5 linked regions of the Homo sapiens genome follow. The protein of the gene in region 5 purifies or fractionates together with the protein of the main gene of each other region. This does not show direct contact. Each region holds a gene or a part of one and is shown on either strand. Other genes may lie near its edges. The genes, in order: LANCL2, GNB4, ERI3, MTMR6 and KCNJ5.

Region 1 (4,525 bases), on a different chromosome or scaffold from region 5:
GTGATTTTTGACCTCAGTTATATACCTGATTTATGTTGAAAAGAAAATTAGACTACAAGTAACTAATGGGGCTTGTGATATCTCTGCAATGAAATGTAAGTTGGGGTGGGGACCTATGCCAGTGGTTGTGAGTATATGCTAAAGAAAGAAATGGACATCATATTATTCTTGAATATGAAAATGAGAGCACGTTGAAGGGAGAGATGGATAGTGATTTTAAAAGGTGGAAAGATTGCTTCTTGGTTATTGGAAAGTCATCAGATAAAATGAATATGAGTTGAACACTGTCTTCCCTATTAATATTTTTTATGATTGACATTAAATTTTTGGTTTTAAAAATCTGTTAAGAATGCAATTTGAGGATATCACACTATGCACTGTTTTTGATAGACATGAAATTTCATGAAAATGAGGGTGTTATGGGTTGAATTGTGTCCCCCACCAGAAAAAAAGGTATTGAAGGTTGAAGTCCTAACCCATTGGAACCTCAGAATGTGACATTTGGAAATAAGGTCATGGCAGATGTAATTAAGATGATGTAATACTGGAATATGATGGGCCCCTAATCCAATATGACTGGTGTTCTTATATGAAGAAAAGAGAAGCAGGTATGATGGCTCATGCCTGTAATACCAGCACTTTGGGAGGTTGAGGCAGGAGGATCACTTGAGGGCAGGAGTTCAAGACTAGCCTGGGCAACATAGTGAGACCCTGTCTCTTTTTTAAAAAGAATTGTAAAAGAGAAGAAAGAGACATAGGGAGAAAGAAGATGGCCATGTGATGATGGAGGCAGAGATTGGAATTGCCAGCCAACACCAGAAACTAGGAGAGGCAAGGAAGGATTCTCCTCTGTAAGTTTGACAGAGAGCATGGCCCTGTTGATACGTTGATTTTGGGGCTGTAGGCTCCAGAACTATGAGAAAATAAATTTATGTGGTTTTAAGCCACCCAGTTTGTTGAACTTTGTGGTATCCCTAGGGTAACTTGTTAATTTGTAAGTTAAGCATTGAATAATTTTCTCTCCATGATGTTACCGAGTAATGATTACAAAAATCTACCAACACAATAACATTTTATTACTAAGTATTCTTTAAGTCATTCACTCTATCTCATTTTAGTTTGGCTGCCTAGGTATGTGGTGTGATCAGTCAATAAAATTATCCTCTGATTCTAAAACCACTCAAGTCGGCTTCTCTGGGCCATATTTCCATAAATTGGTATTTATAACATTTTTTACAATATTGGGCCAATATTATGAAAAGCAGTGAACCAGTGTAGTAGCAGTTGTTTTTAATTATGGAAAGCCTGTGACGCAGACACTCTTAGTTACTCATCTAACAGCCATTTCCTCCTTTTTACTTGATTTTGTTGTGGCCGTGGACTTAAGGGGAATTGAGCCCAGCTCTAGGAGCTGAATCATGATTAATGTCTTTGACCAGCAGCAGCAGCAGCTTCAACTGATGTTCAAGTCCAACCAGGAGATGGGTACCATGCAGAGTTTAATAGGGAAAGTTTAACTTAAAGAATTGTTATGAACTGTGAGACTGGAGTAACAAGAGATTGTCTCATGAGAAGGAAAGAGAACTCTGAAGAGTGTAGGAATAGCAGACAGAAGGAGCAGCCCCACCCCTAGGGCTGAGAGGGCACTCGAGTAAAGGCCCCTGTGATTAGCTCTGTTGCTGTGTAATAATTATCCCAACACTTAGCATCTTTATAAACACTTACGATCTCATGCAGTGTCTGAGAGTCAGGAATCCAGCTGCAGGTTAGCTGGGTGGTTCTGGCTCACGGTCTCTGGAGAAGCTGCACTCAAGCTCTGAACCAGGGCTTCTGTCATTTTGAGGCTTAACTGGGAGAGAGAATCTGCTCCAGGCTCATTCACATGGTGGTTAGTCGGCCTTGCTATGTGTTTTCTGGAGGCTTCAGTGTCTAACCACATGGGCTGCTCCTTAGGGCTGCCTCATGACATAGTGGCTGTCTTCCCTGAGACTGAGTGATCAAAGAGAAAAGTATGCAAGAGCACCCAAGATGGAAGCTGCAGTCATTGTATTTATTATGTAATCTCAGAAGTGACATACCATCACACCTGCCATATTGTATTCTATTAGAAGCAAGACAGTAAATCCAGCCCACGCTCAAGTGGAGGGGTTATACAGGAGCATAAATACCATGAACTGTAGAGTCCTCAGCCAGGGCTGAAATCTTGAACTTGTCAGAGAGGTCATTGCCATACCTCATTGGTTGGGAGAGAAATTGCTGTGATACTGCACCATTGCTAGGTGTAGCCTCCAGAACCCTGCAATGAGTATTACAGTAAGTGACAATATGTAAAGAATATCTTGGGGGCACAAGAGAAGAAAGAAGACGTGTTAATTCTGCCCATTCGCATCAGGGAAGGCTTTTTAGACTAAAATGATACTTTCATGGTCCTTGAAAGATTAAGTGGGGGTTTTCTAGGCTCAGTTAGGGAACTCCATGAGCAAGGACTTAAGGGATACCACATTATGAGAATATCAAGGAGTACGGCATGACTGGAGAAGAGGGAGCGTGAATGGCACTGGGGAGTATTGAGGCCGAAGACAGTGATTGGAGTTGATGCTGAAGGACTTGATGGATTGGAAGGATTCTTTTAAAATGAAATTTAAAATTGTATATTTAAGGTATACCACATGGTGTTATGTGATACATATAGGTAGTAAAATGGTTTCTATAGAGAGGCAAATTAATATATTCCCAATGTCACATAATTACCCATTGTTTTTTCTGTGGCCAGAGCTGCTGAAATCTATTCACTTAGCGTGAATCCCACATCCAGTGCATTTTTATTACCTGTAGTTTTCATGTTGTGCCTTAGAGCTCTAGACTTGTTTGTCCTGCATATCTTCCATTTTGTATCCTCTGACCATTTCCTCTCCTTCCTTCAACCCACTGCCTCCGGTAATAACTGTTTTGTTCTCTATCTCTGTATAGTTTTGGGTTTTGTTTTGTTTTTTTTCGAGACAGGGTCTCACTCTGTTGTAGGCTGGAATGCAGTGGCATGATTGTGGCTCCCTCCCGAGCTCAAATTATCCTCCCACCACAGCTGCCTGAGTAGCTGGGACCACAGACAGGTACCACCATGCCCAACTAGTTTTTGTATTTTTTGTAGAGACAGGGTTTTACCATGTTGCCCAGGCTGGTCTCAAACTTCTGGGCTCAAGGAATTTTTCCCAGCTCATATGCTGCTGTTTCATTTTAAGAATTGTTTCCTTTGCTGTGCAGAAGCTTTTTAATTTGATATAGTAATATTTGTTTATTTCTGCTTTTGTGCCATGAGCTTTTGGTGTCATACCAAAAAATTATTGCTATGGCCGGTGTCCAGGAGCTTTTCCCCATGTTCTCTTGTAGGAGTTTTATAGTTTCTGGTCAATCCAAAGGACTTTACAACTTTTTCCACAGAAAAAAATCAGGAAAACTTGTCTGTAATTTGATACAATCTTAAGCTATTGGAAATGCTTCAGTTTATAATTATTTAATTTTCCATATTTTTGTTTTGAAGCTTTAAAATTTGTTTAACCTCATAATATATCATGGAAGCATAAGGAAATCAGTACTACCCTAATACCCAGAGAAATGTAATTTTTTTCTCTTTATTCAAAATGAACTAAATTGTGTGTGTGTGTGTGTGTCAGGTGGAAGGTGGGGTAATATACTCTACAACTTCTCAGAGTGAGGTTTGTGGACCTAAATCATAAGCAGTTCCTCAAAGATTGTTAGAAATGCAGATCCCACTCCAAACCCAAGGAACCACAGTCTGCATTTTAACAAGATCCTCATGCCAGAGTACTCATAAATTTGAGAAGCATTGAGGAAAACTGTTCTACATGTAGCTTTATTAAATTTTCTTTTAATATGAACTTAATTAACCTCCAGCCAGTTTTCAGTTCCTGATGTGGAAAGATATTGACGTGGAAGGGTAATGGTAAGATTATGGAGAGGGAACTAAGAAGATATTATACATGAGCATTTTCCATCTTTTGGAAATAAATTGTAGCATAGAGCAGGTAACAGTTTTAATAGTCTTGTGTTTGACTCCTACTTTTCTGCCATTTATGACTTGTAGACTTTGAGCAAGTTATTTAACCACACACTGAACCTTGGTTTTCTTACCTCATCAACTTGATGTAAATGGTTAAATTGAAAGGCTAACTGAGGTTCTTAATATAACATAGTTGTAATATAACGTATTTGCTAAAGCTTTTAATAATGTAGATGTAATATAACCACCCCCTCCTCACTGGATTGTTATAATGGCTAATTAGGTTAATACATTTAAAACATTCAGAACGGTGCTGAGTACAGTTAGTACCTAGGTACACATAGTTACTGATACATAGGTGAATAGTAAGAGTTGAGTTAATGATAGCTATTAGCATTATTATAGACATAGCTTATTTGTATTAGAGTATAAAATGTGATAATGAAAAATTTGTTTACATTTTATATTTTCAGTGGAATACAGAAAAAAAACCTACTTTTTTTGCTC
Region 2 (4,525 bases), on a different chromosome or scaffold from region 5:
GGTAAAGTTTTGTTTTTCTTTATTTCATTTTGGTAACTCATAAAATAATTTGACATAGAGGCAAATGACATTCAGATTCTTGTATTAGTGCTTAATTGAAAAAAGTTAAATGAAATCTCTGTGTAAAAGCACTTCGTAATTTGTCAAATGCTATACAGTGCGAGTGCTTTTTAAAATATATTGTTAAAATAGACATCTATGGAAAAATAAATGCTATAAAAATATACCAGCTATACCAACATGGTAAAACCTCATCTCTACTAAAAATAAAAAAAATTAGCTGGGCATAATCCCAGCTAGTCGGGAGGTTGAGGCAGGAGAATTACTTGAACCCAGGAGGCAGAGGTTGCAGTGAGCTGAGATCGCACCATTGTACTCCAGCCTGGGCGAGAAGAGTGAGACGCCGTCTCAAAAAAAAATATATATATATATATGTATATATATTTTCAAGGCCAAGCATGGTGGCTCATGTCTGTAATCCCAGTACTTTGGGAGGCCGAGGTGGGAGGATCACTTGAGGTCAAGAGTTTGAGGCCAGCCTGGCCAACATGGTGAAACCCTGTCTCTACTAGAAAAAAAAAAAAAACATGAAAGTTAGCTGGTCATGGTGGTGCCTGCCTGTAATCCCAGCTACTTGGTAGGCTGAGGCAGGATAATCGCTTGAACCTGGGAGGCAGATATTGCAATGAGCCGAGATCCCTACTGCATTCCAGCCCAGGAGACAAAGTGAGACTCTGTCTCGAAAAAAAAAAAATTATATATATTTATGTATGTATATATATATGTATGTATAGATTCATATAGTTTATGCTTCTTTTTAAATAGTTTCTGATTCTTTTTGGTATACCCTGATTAAGTGTTTTTTTCCTTATGAAAACTCTTAGGTTGGGAATGAGATAGTAAGAGGGGTCAAGAAGACTAATATTTTTAAAAAATCTTGGGAAGGCTTCATGTTTAATTAATATTGATCATTATTATTAAGGAAGTATTTTATGTGCTCTACAAATATAAAATTGGCTTTCTTACAGTTAAAATTGTAAATGTTTACTGTGATCATTTGCCTCTAGATTTTTATTTGTGGCTGGTTTTTTACTAAAGCATAGAGGTATATCTATTCTTTTTAGTTAATAGTCTGCAGAAGGCATTCTTATTATACATTTATGTATATTATTTATAACAGCACATAGGATTATTTTAAACTAATCATAATTTTCAGGAACATATTGATCCCATAACGGCTCTGTGGAATTATATACATTAAATTACCTTCAGTTACTATAAATGTACTTTATGTTTGCTTTTTTAACTCCTCACTGTTTCTAGTTCAAGTTATCTCATGAACTATGATTAAGGTAAAGAATAACATTTTTGTTGCTTTCAAAAGATTACATCAAATATGGACTCTGTGGGTCGAATACAAATGCGAACAAGACGTACACTGAGGGGCCACCTAGCTAAAATCTATGCTATGCATTGGGGATACGATTCCAGGTTTGTACCTGTCATTACCTGTCATTTTTAAACTGTTGCAGAATTATTTTCATTAAGAACCATCATTTGCATTTTCTTTGTTTAAAAACAGAATATATTCATGAAGCGTTTGCAGAAAATGCATCTCAGATGAACATGCTGCTTTCAATAAGAATATTAATTGACTCTTTAAAAGTATAAACATTTTTAATATGGAATCCAGGACAACTGTTCAGAAGAGGATTCCTTTTCTTTGCAGTGGAACATTGCAGACATTCTTTGTTTTTTAAATAGGCACAAAGCGTTTTTACTGTATATGAAGCTTGAAATTTCAGTTCATAAGCAAATACGTATTGAACACCTATGTGCAAGTTTTTGGATATTGCTATAGTTTGTTATTACATAAATTCGCAAATAATGGAAATTACATGAAACAAAGGTGTTTGTACTGAATACATCTTTTACTCCCTCGACTGCATCACAGAAAGGTGTGTGCTTGAATGTGCAAGCTGACCATCTGCAGGTGCACAGGCACACGCACAGCTGCTACGTGGCCTACAGTTAGATAGATTGCTCATCACTGTCATTCACTATGTGTATAAGGCTACAGCACAGCCTATGTTTTTCCATTGTCTGGCAATAGCAGATGTGTCTGCTATCACAGTGGTTTACTTGTTCCTTTGATTTGGTTAATCTTAATGGGAAATGCCTAAACCAAGAAACTTCTATGTTTTAATAGAAGTTGCACATTTATTCTCTTCTCCCAGGAGACACTAAAATTATAAAGTAGAAGAAGCCTCAATTGTTGCTCTAATTGGGATACTTGACCACAATAATATAGAACATGTGCCTCTTACGAAGGGATACATAAAATTATATAATTGGCAACTGACATAATGTCTTAATCTTTTTCTTTTTCTTTTCTTTTTTCTTTTTTTTTTTTTTTTTTGAGACAGAGTTTCACTCTTGTTGCCCAGGCTGGAGTACAATGGTGTGGTATCGGCTCACTGCAACCTCTGCCTCCCAGGTTCAAGGGATTTTCCTGCTTCAGCCTCCCAAGTAGCTGGGATTACAGACATCCACAACCACGCCTGACTAATTTTTGTATTTTTAGTAGAGAGGGGGTTTCACCATGTTAGCCAGCCTGGTCTTGAACTCCTGACCTCAGGTGATCCAACCGCCTCAGCCTCCCAAAGTGCTGGGATTAATCAGGTGTGAGCCACCGCGCCTGGCCGAATGTCTTATTCTTTTTCTTAAAGGAGTTGAAGATAAAAATAATTTACCTGTTGATAAAGCAAAATTTTAACTTAAAATATAGTAACTTGAAACAATGTTTATGGTTCTTGCTTTCCTTAAACGTTTTCTGAAGACTGTTAATCTTCATAGAAAAATGAAACCATCATCCAGGAACCTATCTCACATAGTCTTCCCACCCATCCGTGTTATCAATCCATTACTTAATGTTCTCCTCAACTCTTATGCTGATGATGCCAATTGATTTCTAAAGAATTTTCTTTAGATGCCATCCTATACCCCACTATCAGATAGATCTTCCCTTTTGTAAAACCTTGTAGTGATTGCTACCCAAGAATCTGATAATGTTATTTACCTCTAGGGAAAGGAACTGGGTGGCTGATGATAGGCCCAGGAAGGTGCTTTTTAAATTTTCTTCTGTATATCCTTTTTTATTTTTTGAATTTTACACCATGGTGAAAAGTAAAAATTCCAAACAAGGCTGGGCATGGTGGCTCATGCCTGTAATCCCAGAACTTTGGGAGGCCAAGCGAGTGGATCACTTGAGGTCAAGAGTTCAAGACCAGCCTGACCAACATGTTGAGATCCCATCTTACCAGTCGTGGTGGTGCACACCTGTTATGCCAGCTATTCGGGAGGCTGAGGCAGGAGAATCACTTGAACCTGAGAGGCGGAGGTTGCAGTGGGCTGAGATCGTGCCATTGCACTCTAACCTGGGTGTCACAGTGAGTGTCTGTCTCAAAAAAAAAAAAAAAATCCAAACAAAACAAAAAATTTAGTGGCTAAAATTACTTAGGAGTTCATACTCTTTAGTTTAACAAAGCTTTCTGCAGTTTAAGCCCAGTCTGCTTTTCTCAACTTATTTTTCCATTTTCTCACAAACTGTACTACTGGAAGACCCACAATTCCTGAAACAACACTCAGTGTATTTTTCTACCTGTCATTGATCTTACATAGCTTTCTCCTAAAATACAGCCTTTTCTGTATCTTTAGCTCTCAACATTTTCTTTCAAGACTCATTCTCTTGTGATTAACTCATCTAGCCATTGTTCCTCCTTTACTCTCCTGTGGCATTTATTTTATACCCCTCTTCTGACAGTTTTTACTTACTTGATTTAATATAAATATGAGTAAATGTCTTATCTTCACCAGATGGTAGAGGCCTCAAGAGCAGGCGATGTATCCTGCGTTGTACCTCTAGTATTGTCATATTCTCAGGCTCTCAATTGGTGTTTTTAGATTGGATGAAATATGGTTGTTAGGCTTCTATGTACATTCTTGTCATGAAATTTAAGTAAGTCAGTAAGTACTAAACCAGTCAGCTAATATCCACCCAAATCTTGTATAACTAAGATGTTGTTACCACAAAAATGTTTAATCATAGCCAGACATTTTTAGTCAGTTGCTAAATTTTATTTTATGAAATATGTTCAAGATTTTTGGCATGCAGCATAAATTTTTTAAAAGTTGGAAGAACATTTTTTGGTATCAAGTTTTTAGTTGGAAAAATTGTATTTTTCTGAATTATTCTACATTAATGCAATGCATAACCAATTTAAGCTATTTTTTCCCTCTAAGTGTCAAATTATTTTTGTGTTTGTTCCTCTAGGCTGCTAGTCAGTGCTTCTCAAGATGGAAAATTAATTATTTGGGATAGCTATACAACAAATAAGGTAGAATTTCTTCATAATTCTTTTAAATAACCTTATATTTGTTTGGCTGTTCACCAGTTCTTTCCTTTATTCTTTTACCTCAAACTTAAATTGCTTTCTGAGATAAATTTATTGTTTATTTTAATCTA
Region 3 (4,525 bases), on a different chromosome or scaffold from region 5:
AACATGTCTATGCATCACACACTCTATAACCTAACCCTATAGAGAAGAGTTACAGTCCTAGAGCCAGACATATTCAATGCACCAACACTACAATGAACTGCTACATCAGCCCCCAATCATTCCCTCAAAGCAAACACCACATACTTCAATATCACCTGCAGCTAATCCAAGCCTCCTAGCAGCATTAACTTAAAAGCTAAAAGGTCTTTGAACACAGCTGGTGACTAATGAAAAAAAGCAAGCAAAGAAATTGTCCTTTCCAACAGACCAACAATGGTACTTGCTCAGGTTATCTAATGCTGCATAACAAATCATCCCAAAACCTGTGGCTTAAAACATCAATAATCATTTGTTATCCCTCACAGTTCCTGTGAGTCAGGAATTTGAGAGTGGCTTAGCTGGCTGGTCTGGCTCAAAGTCCCTCCTAAGGTTGAAGTCACATGTCCACCGGGGCTGCAGTCATCTGAAGGCCTGACCGGGGCTGGTAGATTCACTTCTAAGATAGCTCATTCTCATGACTGGCAAGTTGGGCACTGGATTTTGGCTAAGAGCCTCAGTTCCTACACACATGTGCCTCTCCACAGGGCTGCTTGAGTGTCCTGGCAGCATGACAGCTGGCTTCCCCCAGAGCAAGTGGTCCAAAAGAGCAAAGTGGACTGCAATACTTTTTATAACTTACCCTCAGAAGTCGTACATTATCTCTTCCACTGTATTCTATTAGCTATACAGGAATATCTTTGATTCAGTGCAGGAGGGGAACTACCAAGGGTGTGAATAGCAGGAGTTAAGAATCATTGAGGTCATCTTGGAGGCCAGCTACTATAGCACTCCTTAAAGGAACAAGTGGCAGTAGCAGGAGAATGGAGGAAAGAAGAGAACAGAGAAAGGAAGGACGGGAGAAGGAAATATTTTGATTCCCAAAAGCTGAGACTAGAGAGAAACAATGTACCCAGTTCTCTCCAGAGACTTCTCAGGTCTACCTTACACTAGCATACCTGAAACAAGTCCTGCTTCCTAGACAGGAACTCTAAATGAGTAGCTAAAAGACAGGAAGGCATGAGAAAGCTCCTTTGTGTCCCAGGAAGCAAAACTATCCTCCCTCCCTCCTTGCCCCCCCCACCTTTTCTAAAGCAATGATGGAACAGTTACCTGAGGATGAATCTGTGGCTTGTCGCACGTGGCCTCAAAGTCCAGCACTAAAAAGTAGTGATACCTCTGGGGAGGGAAGGACACCATTGCCGCCATGGATGCGCCAAAGCCGTGGGCCGCCAGCTTTCTGGTGGATATGGAGCAGAACTCCGGAACACCACAGGGAGAAAATAAGTGGGAGCCCAGCACTTTTCTTGCTCTTGAAAGTAAATACGAAGAAAATCGAGCTGCTCCAGTCTGTAAAGGTGCTAGCATTGAACATCCAGAAGCATCTAAAACTTAGGGGAGGAAAGTTTAAAAAAAAAAAAAAAAAAGAAAAGAAAGAAAAAAAAAAAAAGAACAGAGAGCCTGGGTTACTCCCTCCCACTGTGGCCCTGTTCCATCTAGTCTTCAGGAATATCCACGCAACATGGGCCACTCCCCAGTGTTTCTGGGCCCCTTTTCTAAATCATAGTATTCGTTACTAAAGTTCAAGACCCTAATAGCAGCACCTGCAGCATTATTACAGCTCTGAGTCTCCCAGATCATTCTCAAAACAACATGCAACACTGGCCTGCATCTTTAAATGGAGCTCTAAAGTTCAAAAGAGAGAAGAGAGAAAAATTGTGCAGTCACTTCTCAGGTGGCAACAGTTAACATTAAAGCTATGGGTCCAAAGTAACGTGAGGTGACCCTGTTGTACAATGAGTCCTGGAAGCTAAGTAGACTCAGACAAGCAGCAGAAAATGTCCAAGGTTCTTTTCTCAGCTCCACTAGGAGCCATTTGCCCCTGGCTTTCCAGTCTGTATCTTGATGTCTCCACATACCCTCCTCCCCTCTCCCAAGGTGAAGGCAAACAAAGCGAATCACAGGGGTTTGCTCTGACATTCTGGTGATCCCCCAACCCCCACACTAGTAAGTGGCACCCTGGGGGAATGAACAGTGCCTGGAGAGCACAGCTGGCTGCAGCCTTAGGCCTTCTCATTTGCTGCCTTAGACTCGGTCTCTACTCGAGGCCCTGAATGACTGCGGGACTTTTTAAATAGGGAAGAAAAAGAAAACCCAGATGTGGCAGTAATAGGAACATGGCTAAAAGTCTAGTAAAGTTTTCTGAGTGAACATGTGCAAAAAAAAAAAAAAAAAAATCAAATCACTTTTCCTTTAAGTTTTCCCCTTAAATTTGCAGAATGCCTGCTCCTCAGAGGCCTAACTAAATACAAAAATCAAAGCCTAAGTTTTACTCACGAATAACTCAAACTTCCTTAAAAAGAAAAAAGGAACAAAGCAGAAATGTTGTCTTTCTCCCTTTAATACTCAACATTCAAATTTCTCTCAACTTTAATCCTCAAATAAGAAATCTCACTGTACAATACAGTAATGGCCATAGTTTGTGCTTTCCGAAGCCTCATTCCAACACAACCAAAGGCTTGCCTCTGATGGCTGCAAGTGGGCACCTGGCTCCCTTCACATAGGGTAGAGGGATAGCACCCTGTGAAGTCCAGCGCGTACTCAAAGGCAATGAGGCCACTACCACCTGAACAGAAGCAGATAATGCCAAGTATGGCTGTCTTCCCATCTCTCTCCTGACTCACTGAATGAGCTACAGTAACTTGCCTATATATATAGTAGGATATACGCTAGTGTAGGTCCTCAATTTCCCTATCCCTATAATGAGATTTCAGGGGGATTCAGTGGAGCTAAGACCAAAAAATATTTTAAGTTCTTCATGGATCCTGCACAAGCACAGCACTTGTTTTCACCACTGCTTTATAGCCTCACCAAAAATACAGCCAAAACTCAGCCCAGGTAGACAAACGCTGGCTTGAGTTTCAATATGGAGTCTCCTGGAAGGGCAAGAGGGCCAATATCCCTTTGAAAGCCAGAATCTTCTCATCGCCTATTCCTGAATAGTACTGGAAGCCTTAATGAGATGGAAGACACCAGTCTGCTCAAATTACCCATTCTAGTTTGGATCCAAAGTCCCTCAAGGACTTAGACTCTTCTCTAACCCCATAAAAAAGTGTAAAGACTTCTGAAAGTCCTAATGTTCTACAGTGTGCACAGAATATGCGTAGTATATACAGTCAGTCAATCCTGTCTACCAAATACTATAAGCAATTAAGCATGATGAGTAAGGAGGGCTTCCAAGTTTGAATCCTAGCTTTACCACTTACTACCCATGGCACCTTGGGCATGCTGTGTTCTTCAATTCCTCATCTGTAAAATGACAATAACAATAGCACCTACTCCTTAAGTGAGAACAAAATGAGACAACACATGTAAAGCACTAAGACCAGTGCCTGGCATATAACAGCCTAATATATATTATCCTAATGTTATTACTACTATCCTATTGGGCTATGCCCACCTGGCCAAGCCTGGATCCCCAGATTCTGGGCCTACAAATCCAATTAATTCATAAGGCAGCCTCAGAGAGTAATATCGATGTCTTCTGCAACCCTAAAATGCTCCAGACCTCTGACAGAGCATACTATATATACCCTATTCTGATGGCCAGTGGTCCTCTTGCCTGCAGGCCTTGCTTTCTCACCTGATTTCATCTACATCAAAAAGCTTCTTTTGGCCAAGCACAGTGACTGCACCTGTAATCCCAGCACTGTGGGAGGCTGAGGCAGAAGTATTGCTTGAGCCCAGGAGTTCGAAACCAGCCTGGGAAACATAGTGAGACCCAATCTCTACAAAAAATAAATTAAAAATTAGCCAGGCGGGGTGCTGCATGCCTGTAGTCCCAGCTACTTGGTAGGCTGAAGTAGGAAGATCACTTGAGCCCAGGAGGTTGAGGCTACAGTGAGCTGTGATGGAGCCACTGCACTCCAGTCTGGGTGACAGAGCAAGACCATAATTCAAAAACAAAACAAAACAAAACAAAACAAAAAAACTTCTCTCGTAGGAAGTCTTGAGAGTAGACATTAGGAGGTCAGGCCTCCACATATCAGCAGTTACTGGATTCCACACTTCCCTTACTTCTAACAACCAAGCTCAGTTCAAGTCAAGAAACAGAGGGTAGCTCTTCCTCTTCCCTTCCTGAAAAACTCAATCCTAAAGCCATTAGGTGCAGCAGAAGAGGGCAGATATCTACAACGGGTGGAGTAGGGTGAGCCAGAGAGGTCTGGGGGACACTGTCAGAGCCCAGGCAGGGTGAGGAAGACATCCTTGCAGAAGTGGGAAGGTGTGGTGCAGCATGTCAGAGCCGAGGGGGATGTGGAGAGCATCCATGTCGGCTGGCAGTCTGATGTGGGGTGACACACGCAGGGTAAAAGAGGCACTCATGAAGGGTAAAGGGCAGTGGCAGTAATGAGGATTAGCTACCTACAGAGGAACTGATCAAAGAAGTGCATATATTAAGCATAATGGGACCCAGGTTTCTCACTGTTAA
Region 4 (4,525 bases), on a different chromosome or scaffold from region 5:
GAAAAAAAAGAAAAAAAGACTTTGGGAAAAGAAAGAACAAACGAAAAACGAAAATGTGGCAAGGAGAAAGGAATTGGAAGATGTCGCTTTGGTGAGGAATGGTAAATGCCAACACACATTACTTTAAGGACTATTTAGTTGAATTGTTGCCAACTATGGGCCTGCACTAAAAGGTACCCTAATGGTCCAGGCAGAAAGTTCAAATTTCAGCCAATTATAAAATTAGAACTGGAAAACACAGAGAACCCCACACATACAGAATCACACTCAGAAAATGTTGGGGCCACTACAGGTGTAGTAGCTTACGCTTGTAATCCCAACACTTTGGGAGGCCAAGGCAGGAGGATTGCTTGAGACCAGGAGTCTGAGAACCAGTCTGAGCAACATAGTGACACCCTCATCTCTACAGAAAAAGAAAATTATTTTCTAATTAGCCAGGCATGGTGGCATGCTCCTGCAGACCCAGCTACTTGGGAGGTAAAGGCAGGAGGATCGTTTGAGCCCAGGAGGTAGAGGCTGCAATGAGTTATGATCATACCACTGCACTCCAGCCTAGGTGACAGAGCAAGATCTTGTTGGAAAGGAAAGGAGAAAGACAGGAGAAAGGACAAAGAAGAAAGGAGAAAGGAAAGGGGAAAGAGAAAAGAGGAAAGGAAAAGGAAGGAAAGGAAGAGAAAAGAAAAAAAAGAAGAAAAGATTCCAAATGAAAAACACAGGGAGTCACACAAACAGAATCACATTCAGAAAATTCAGACACCTCTTTATCCCTGAGGAAAAAGTGGCCTCTGGGACAGGAAGGGACCAATGGCCTTCTTCAGACTTCTGTGACCAACAGTTGTACTTATTCTACAACTACATAACAATAGACGCTGTGGCTACTGAAGCAGAAAGTGCACCATCACTGTTCCTCTGGCTTGTCGCACTCCTTCCCTATAGCCAGGCACTCATCTAGGACTCTCAGAATCATTTCACACTGACATCCTGCCAAGAATTAGCTTTCAAAAAGAAAGCACATCAAGTTGTGTGCAGGAAGTGGAGGGCAGAGATTATGGTTTCTGTTCATGTATCCCAATTTCTAGAACAGTGTCTGGCTGCATAAATTATCAAATGAAACAGTCATGGACCTCAAGAGGGGAGAGAGTAACCTCAGATCGTAAATCCAGTGGGCACTTTTCAGTTTTTTCTTACTTTGCTTATTCCATCAATGGCTTCCTATCTCACTCAAAAAAAGCAAAGATTTTACAGTGGCCTTCAAGACTACAGTAACTTGCCCCTGTCCCCCAACTTTAATCTTCTACTGTGCTCTTCTTCACTCACCCTGCTCTAGCTGTCTTGCTTGTTCTTAGCAACCAGGCATGCCCTCAAAGGGTTTTTGCCCCTGTTGTTCCCTTTGTTGGGACTCTCCCCGCCATCCCCCATGTGGGGATGGCTTACTCCCTCACCAGTTTCAGGTTTATACTCAAGAGTCACCTTCTCTGTAAGAGCTTCCCTAACCACTCAATTTATAGCAGTCCTCCCTTAAACCCCCTCCTCAACCCTCATACTCTTCAGAGCCCTGGCTTGCTTTATTTTTATCCACAGCATTTACCACCATCTAACATACAATACATTGAACTTAATTTTGTTTATTGTTACCTCTTCTCCAACTAGATAAGTTATAAGGGCAGGAGTTTTTGTCTGAACCTAGAACAGTGCCTGGCCCAAGGAGGAGGAAGCAGCCAGAGGATGGAGCAGAGAAGGAAATTAGAACACGGAAGACTGTCACCTTCCCATCTGTGCTTCACCTCTTCCAAATGCATCCGGCTTCTCCTCCTCTGCTTGCTCGCCCTCTTCTTTTTTCTTTTTTCTTTTTTCTTTTTTTTTTTTTGAGACAGAGTGCTGCTCTGTGACCCAGGCTGGATGCCGTGGCACGATCTCGGCTCACTGCAATCTCCATCTTCTGGGTTCAAGTGATTATCATGCCTCAGCCACCCAAGTAGCTGGGATTACAGGTGCCCGCCACCATGCCCAGCTAATTTTTTGTATTTTTAGTAAGACAGGGTTTCACCATGTTGGCCAGGCTGGTTTCAAACTCCTGACCTCAAGTGATCCTACTGCCTCGACCTCCCAAAGTGCTAGGATTACAGGTGTGAACCACCATGCCCGGCCTGCTTGTCCCTTTTTAAGTGTTTAGACTTTTCTCCACAGAGTCTCAACATATTCTCCTTGCATAAACTCATTCACAATAGAAATTTCAATGATTTACCTAAACACAAACAACTCCCTCCCAAATCTACTCAAGGCCAGACCTTTTCCCTCACACTAGATCCTCACATTCAGCTAGCTACTAGAAAAAAATCTGACCACCTAAGCTTCTTCTATCCACCCCTCCTCTCTGTTCTTACTCACACTGCCCCAACTGACTAATCAAATCTCTTGATTAGATTATTATTCTGTGAGGCAAGAGAGTGTGGTTAAGAGAATAGGCTTGCTATCAGAAAGACCTACATTCAAGTTCCCACCTCCACCTCTTCTTTGGTAGAACTAACTGTGTGAGCCAGGACAAGTTATTTTATTAATTCTCTCAGGGTTTCAGTTTCCTCACCTGTAAAATGGGATAGTATTAGTGAAAATCAAAACAACACTTTACTTGGAAAAAAGCATTCAGGTGCTCCTCAAAACCTATTGGCTTTTATTTCAAAGACAATTTAAATAATATCAGTTTCTCCTTATTCTTGATCCATTCTTATTTTTATATCTCCTTTCTTCTTTCAGAGGGAAGGTATATTTGTATACATACATAGATGATCTCACATTCTAATGACAAAAAGAGGGAGCAAGCTAAAGAACATGTTAGGCATAACTTTTGGAATAACTCAATTTGGGCCTTAGTAGGATCAGATTTTTATGGGACATTCCATTTGATTACAAACGCTAGCAATCAGCCTTTCATTTATAGCTTAAAAAAGGTTCTTCCATTCCATTCAGTAAAGTTCCATTCACAGGTAAGACAATATCATTTGACATCAATATATAATGTCAGCCAAAGTACTGGCAGGGAAAGGAGAAAGACTGCATAAAGAACTGTCTCTGCATATTTCTCATTGTTTCTTGGCAGGACTATGTCATTATGGCAAAATGAGAGCTCAAAGCGATAGGTAGTAGCTGCATGATTCATAAGTGTAGCTTGGAAATGCTCTTTCAGAAATCCAGATTCAGGGACTTGGCATCTTTGATGCTATACAGTTAGTAAACCAAATGTGACCAAAACAGAATGATAAATATGTTCATTAGTATTCAGCTAAAATACTTAATCTGATAAATCTCTGGTTAGCAAGCAATAATGATCCTAAATATTATTTAAAAACAATACCGCATAAATATTATTTATTTATGACAAAAAGAGGTTTGGGGGGGAAGCTCTTAGAATTATCATCAGCATTTATTTCTGAATTAATACTAATGCACATTTAACAATTAGATTAAAACTAGAGAGGCACTGGAAAGAGCATACATAGTCTTTGGAGTTAAACACACCTTAGTTTAAATACTAATTCTATCTCTTGTGAACTAATTGAGCAGGTTACTTAAATTCTCTAAGCCTATTTCCTCCTCACCTATAAATGGAGATAATACTACCCAACTGACAGGGTTATTTAAGAGATCAGTGATGATAATGTATAAATTAACAGATTTATACAATTGTACATATTATAAAGTAATAATATTGTATAATTGGCTATATTGACATATAGTTGCTCAATAAATGGTAATTATTACTTTTCAAATAGAGCTGACTGAACAACAAAAATCACTAAATAGTCATAAAGGACACTCTACGGTCAATTTTGATCCTAATGACTAAACTACATAGAGGTCAAAACAGCTAATAAATCTAAAACAATCCACTTTTGCTTTTTAAATACTTACACTTATTTTTGCAGCAAACTAACTAAATCCAGGTGAAGGCTATGCATAATGGAAACAAAAGTTTGGCTATGTTCAAACCAATCTTTTAAAAGTAAGTTATTTCCCAATACATTAATAATTTAAGAACATGTTACAGTCCCCACAACAATTAACAGAATGTACCCTGAGGTCCACCTCTATCTTGCTGTTATATACCCAGTGTCAATACAGTGTCTGGCACATACTAGGTACCTAGAAAATATTTATTTGCGGTCTACATACACTCACTTAATATTACTCCAGAGTAGTGATCCAATACTAGAAAAACAACCCAAAGTAATAAAGGAGCATATTTGAAAAGTAGTTTTAATAGACAATTCATCAGAAATTTCTTAGTCTCTAAAAAGGCCTTATTAAACCACTAGCATGAGACCACTGTGTAAAGATAAGTCAAAATCAGAGCATTACTTGAAGAAAAGTTCATCAGTTGGTAGATAAGGAGGAATATCAGACAAAATGAAAGTCACCAGTGACAACTTTCAAAGAGCTAATAAGAGGGGCTACAACTCTACAAATAAAAACAAAGATATATATTCATAATAAATTGAATGAGGAAAGATTTAAAATAACCAAGGGA
Region 5 (4,525 bases):
ATGGAGAAGAGTGGCAAGTGCAACGTGCACCACGGCAACGTCCAGGAGACCTACCGGTACCTGAGTGACCTCTTCACCACCCTGGTGGACCTCAAGTGGCGCTTCAACTTGCTCGTCTTCACCATGGTTTACACTGTCACCTGGCTGTTCTTCGGCTTCATTTGGTGGCTCATTGCTTATATCCGGGGTGACCTGGACCATGTTGGCGACCAAGAGTGGATTCCTTGTGTTGAAAACCTCAGTGGCTTCGTGTCCGCTTTCCTGTTCTCCATTGAGACCGAAACAACCATTGGGTATGGCTTCCGAGTCATCACAGAGAAGTGTCCAGAGGGGATTATACTCCTCTTGGTCCAGGCCATCCTGGGCTCCATCGTCAATGCCTTCATGGTGGGGTGCATGTTTGTCAAGATCAGCCAGCCCAAGAAGAGAGCGGAGACCCTCATGTTTTCCAACAACGCAGTCATCTCCATGCGGGACGAGAAGCTGTGCCTCATGTTCCGGGTGGGCGACCTCCGCAACTCCCACATCGTGGAGGCCTCCATCCGGGCCAAGCTCATCAAGTCCCGGCAGACCAAAGAGGGGGAGTTCATCCCCCTGAACCAGACAGACATCAACGTGGGCTTTGACACGGGCGACGACCGCCTCTTCCTTGTGTCTCCTCTGATCATCTCCCATGAGATCAACCAGAAGAGCCCTTTCTGGGAGATGTCTCAGGCTCAGCTGCATCAGGAAGAGTTTGAAGTTGTGGTCATTCTAGAAGGGATGGTGGAAGCCACAGGTAAGGCGCTTTGTCCTCCTCAGCCACAGGTGGCCCTACCTACACTTCAGACTTAGGCAACTGTGACTCCAGAAGATGCAGGTCTGTGCCTGAGAGTCCTGGGGTGGCGCAGGCAACACATTCAATCCCTAAATTGTGGTTTGAGGGGTACTGGTACTCAAGATTGAGTAATAGCAATAGCTAACACTGACAGGAACTTCCCAACTTTCAGGCACTGTCCTAAACAATAAACATCTATCATCTGGCCAAATGTCCTCCCACGCCCTATGAGATATAGTGGGTTATTGTTGTTGTTGTTTTGTTTATTTGTTTATTTTTGAGGCAGGGTCTTGCTCTGTCACCCAGGCTAGAGTGCAGTGGCCCGATCTCGGCTCACTGCAACCTCCACCTCCCGGATTCAAGCGATTCTCCTGCCCCAGCCTCTGGAGTAGCTGGGATTACAGGTGCCCGCCACTGCGCCTGGCTAATTTTTGTATTTTTAGTAGAGACAGGGTTTCACCATGTCGGCCAGGTTGGTGTCGAACTCCTGACCTTGTGATCCACCTGCCTCGGCCTCCCAAAGTGCTGGGATTACACGCGTGAGCCACAGTGCCCAGCCAAGATAGTTTTTATTAAGGTACAGATAAAGACACAGGGACACAGACAGGCTAAATTATTTGCCCAAGAGCAAGCACTTTCGAATGATAGAGCTAGGATGGAAATTGAGACCAGGGACCCCAGAGCCAGCACTTGTTTCCAACAGGACAAACTGCCCCTTCTTGGAACAAGTGTTCTACCCAGAAGAGCTCCCTGGTCAGATAGCTCTGGTAATCACAGGGCGAAACAAAAGCGAACTGGTTTCTTTACAGTGGACTTCTCGCTGTCCTTACCCACTGAGTCTCATCACTGGGAGAGGAGGGGATGCAGAATTTCCTAAACTCAAAAGGTTCTCACCAACCCCTTACTTGGAGAGACCTTTGCTGCAGGGGAAGGGCTTTTGTGGCTGGGCTCCCTCTGGGGCAGCCAGCCCTCAGCATTCTTGCAGAAGGTTGGTTTAGTGAACGCAGGGCAGGTGAGGCTCCTTTCTCACAAAAAAACAGTGCATCCATGCTGAGGCATCAACATCCATGTATGCCCAAGAAAATGCCCTTTGTGTGGCCAGCATGGCACCTCCCTGCTCAGCTACTGACTCACCAGCAGCTGGTAGCCAAGGACCCCCCAGTTCCTCAGCCACTCAGCCATGGCAGACCTCTGTGAGGTGGCTCCAGGGAGTCCAAGGCCTGGGACCGCCTGAACTCTGGCAGAGGACCCTAGTCCCCACCCCACTCGCAGCAAAACCCCACATCCTGCATATTTCATTTCTTCCTCGTGCCTTCCTTTCTCTCTCTCTCTCTTTTTTTTTTCAACCAGGTACAATGAGCAGCTGGTCAGGCCCTAAGGATGGGTTCTAGAAACTCAGTCACGCTCAGAATGATGCATGTCTATTTTTCCAATTCTTGCAAATGACAGTGTAGGGCTGGCTTCAGTCTCATTTTACAGATGTCGAGGCTGAACCTAAAAAGCATTATGTAGACAGTGAGTGTTCATATTCAGCTCTTCCACTTACAAATCTGGAGCTTCTCTCACCACTCTGCCCCACTAAAATACTAGCGGCCTGTCAGGAAGATGGCCAAGCACACATTCCAGCCCCCAGGAAGCTGGCTGCCGGGCAGGGGACTCAGACCCAGACTGCACAAGCCTTCCCATTTTGAAGTTGGTGGAACCAGGAGAGGGCAATGACAAGCTCCAGGGACTGGTGCCAGAGGTGGCTGCTCGGCCATCTGCTGGGGGCTGGAGTCTGGCAGGCAGCATATGGTGGCAGGTGGGCAGCCCCGGGGCCGAGGACAGTCAGGACTCAGGAAGGTTTCCCCCACAGAGCTAGGGGCTTGCAGGTCACCCTGCCCTTGCCTCCAGGGTCAGAATCAGGACACAGGCTGCATTTCAGGGGAAGAACTCCACTCTGAAGCCACAAAAAAGGGATTGGGTGAGAGACATGGGGTCAAATCATAGCACACCTGACCACTCTCCAAGGCCATCCTCACTCCCCAGCCATGCAGCAGGGAGAGCGCCCACAGGCTCGTAGTGGAGGGAGCCAGTGCTATCTGCCCCGCTGCCCCGCTGCACCCCCAACCACACCTCCCTCAAAGTCAGGGGCCCGCCATTCACTTGTCCTCACGGTTTGGCCTCCTTCCCCTCCCACAACCCGGGCTATGCTTGCTCTGTCCCACAAACTGTAGGGGAGATCCAGGGAGATAGGGCAGGAGACCCTGGCCCACATCTGTCCTGGATGTGGGTGGTTTGGTTGTCAAGCACATGCAGCCAGGTGTGGGCTGGGAATCCATGCCTCAGCTTGAGTAGCACAACTCTGCCGTATCCTGCCTGAGCGGGTTTGAGCAAGCTGCTTACCTTGTCAGCAAAGTGAGGAAAATCAATCTCTTAGGGCTGTTGGGAGGATTCAAGATGAAAAGGAGCTGTGCTGATCACTATACCTGACACCTGGGGAATCCTTTCCAAACGTATTGAGCAATGACAGGGACACACCAGGATCTCTAGCTACAGGGCAGCCGCTGCCACACCCCATGAGGAGCAGGAGGATCCCAAAGGGGAAAGGTCCTGCCCATACCTTTCCCAAGGCCCTGGGAGGCTGCAGACGTCTGGCATGGTCTAGGCTGCTCAGGGCCCGGTTTGGGCCTCTCTGCCAAGGCTGTGGGGACAACAAGGGTAACGACTGAAGGGAGAGGCCCGGCCCAGGCAGGCATCACTGAGAGCAGAGAGCAGGCTGTGGGCGCACCTGTGTGGGTGCGCTGGGGCTGAGAAGCAGCCTTGGACCTGGGTCTGCTTTGTATGAGCCCCTCCCAGAGAAAGCCCAAAGTGGGAGCTGGAGACGGTTGCCTTCAGCACCCAACCAACACAGTTAATGCCTTCCTTGGCCAGAAGATTAAATATCAGAAAGCTGCTTTCCTGTGACCCTAAGCACAGAGGCCTCCTCATCCATAAACAAAGCTGCCCTCCTCTCTGGAGAGAAAGCAACACCTAAAAATAGCATAGGCATGGCACGGGCTGAGTAGACAGGGAAACGAGGCATTGGAGCAGCCTCAAATCAAGAAGCCAAGCTCTGTGTGTGCGTCTGCTCCTCTTCCTGTGTGTATGTGTGTGTGTATGTGAGTGTGGAGCCCTCTCTCCGTATGTGTCCGCCCAAAACAATCCCCATATGTTCCAAATGCCTGTCAGATTCTCCGTGTTCATTCATGCTGAATTTATCTTTGCCCTTTCCTGCCTTTTTTCCCATCTTAATCTTCTAGACCTGAATGCTGTTTTCAGGAACGGAGTCCCTACCTTCAACTATTCCAACATCTATTCACTCCAATCTCTAGGAAATGACTTTCAGAATCTTGCATGTCGATTTCTAATTTTCTGCCACCACTACGCCTTGAACTCCTCCAGGGCAAGGACTGTGTCTTATTCAGCTTTACATTTCCACTATGCTTAGCACAAAGTAGATGTTCATGAAATGCTTGATGAGTGATTGGATGGTTGAAGGAATGCATGAATGTATGGATAATTGGATGGATGGATGGATGGATGGATGGATGGATGGATGGATGGATGACTGGATGGGTGGACGATTAGGTAGATGAGTGGATGGATGGATGGATGGGTGATAGGATAGATGGATAGATAATTGGAAGGATAGATGAATAAATAATTGGGTGGATAGATAGATGATGA

What was found.
Region 1: the proteins of KCNJ5 (region 5) and LANCL2 purify together in Homo sapiens (affinity purification with mass spectrometry; 2 studies listed by BioGRID and IntAct, with this or other methods). This does not show direct contact.
Region 2: the proteins of KCNJ5 (region 5) and GNB4 purify together in Homo sapiens (affinity purification with mass spectrometry; one large-scale study listed by BioGRID and IntAct). This does not show direct contact.
Region 3: the proteins of KCNJ5 (region 5) and ERI3 purify together in Homo sapiens (affinity purification with mass spectrometry; 2 studies listed by BioGRID and IntAct, with this or other methods). This does not show direct contact.
Region 4: the proteins of KCNJ5 (region 5) and MTMR6 purify together in Homo sapiens (affinity purification with mass spectrometry; 2 studies listed by BioGRID and IntAct, with this or other methods). This does not show direct contact.

The regions. Positions count from the first base shown.
Region 1 is NC_000007.14:55,368,261-55,372,785, forward strand, and holds part of LANCL2 (lanC-like protein 2), read left to right. Parts: intron 1-4,525. UniProt on the Homo sapiens protein: Necessary for abscisic acid (ABA) binding on the cell membrane and activation of the ABA signaling pathway in granulocytes.
Region 2 is NC_000003.12:179,416,365-179,420,889, reverse strand, and holds part of GNB4 (guanine nucleotide-binding protein subunit beta-4), read left to right. Parts: coding exon 1-1; intron 2-1,384; coding exon 1,385-1,491; intron 1,492-4,333; coding exon 4,334-4,397; intron 4,398-4,525. UniProt on the Homo sapiens protein: Guanine nucleotide-binding proteins (G proteins) are involved as a modulator or transducer in various transmembrane signaling systems.
Region 3 is NC_000001.11:44,337,896-44,342,420, forward strand, and holds part of ERI3 (ERI1 exoribonuclease 3), read right to left. Parts: intron 1,428-4,525; coding exon 1,150-1,427; intron 1-1,149.
Region 4 is NC_000013.11:25,280,758-25,285,282, forward strand, and holds part of MTMR6 (phosphatidylinositol-3,5-bisphosphate 3-phosphatase MTMR6), read right to left. Parts: intron 1-4,525. UniProt on the Homo sapiens protein: Lipid phosphatase that specifically dephosphorylates the D-3 position of phosphatidylinositol 3-phosphate and phosphatidylinositol 3,5-bisphosphate, generating phosphatidylinositol and phosphatidylinositol 5-phosphate.
Region 5 is NC_000011.10:128,911,433-128,915,957, forward strand, and holds part of KCNJ5 (G protein-activated inward rectifier potassium channel 4), read left to right. Parts: coding exon 1-778; intron 779-4,525. UniProt on the Homo sapiens protein: Inward rectifier potassium channels are characterized by a greater tendency to allow potassium to flow into the cell rather than out of it.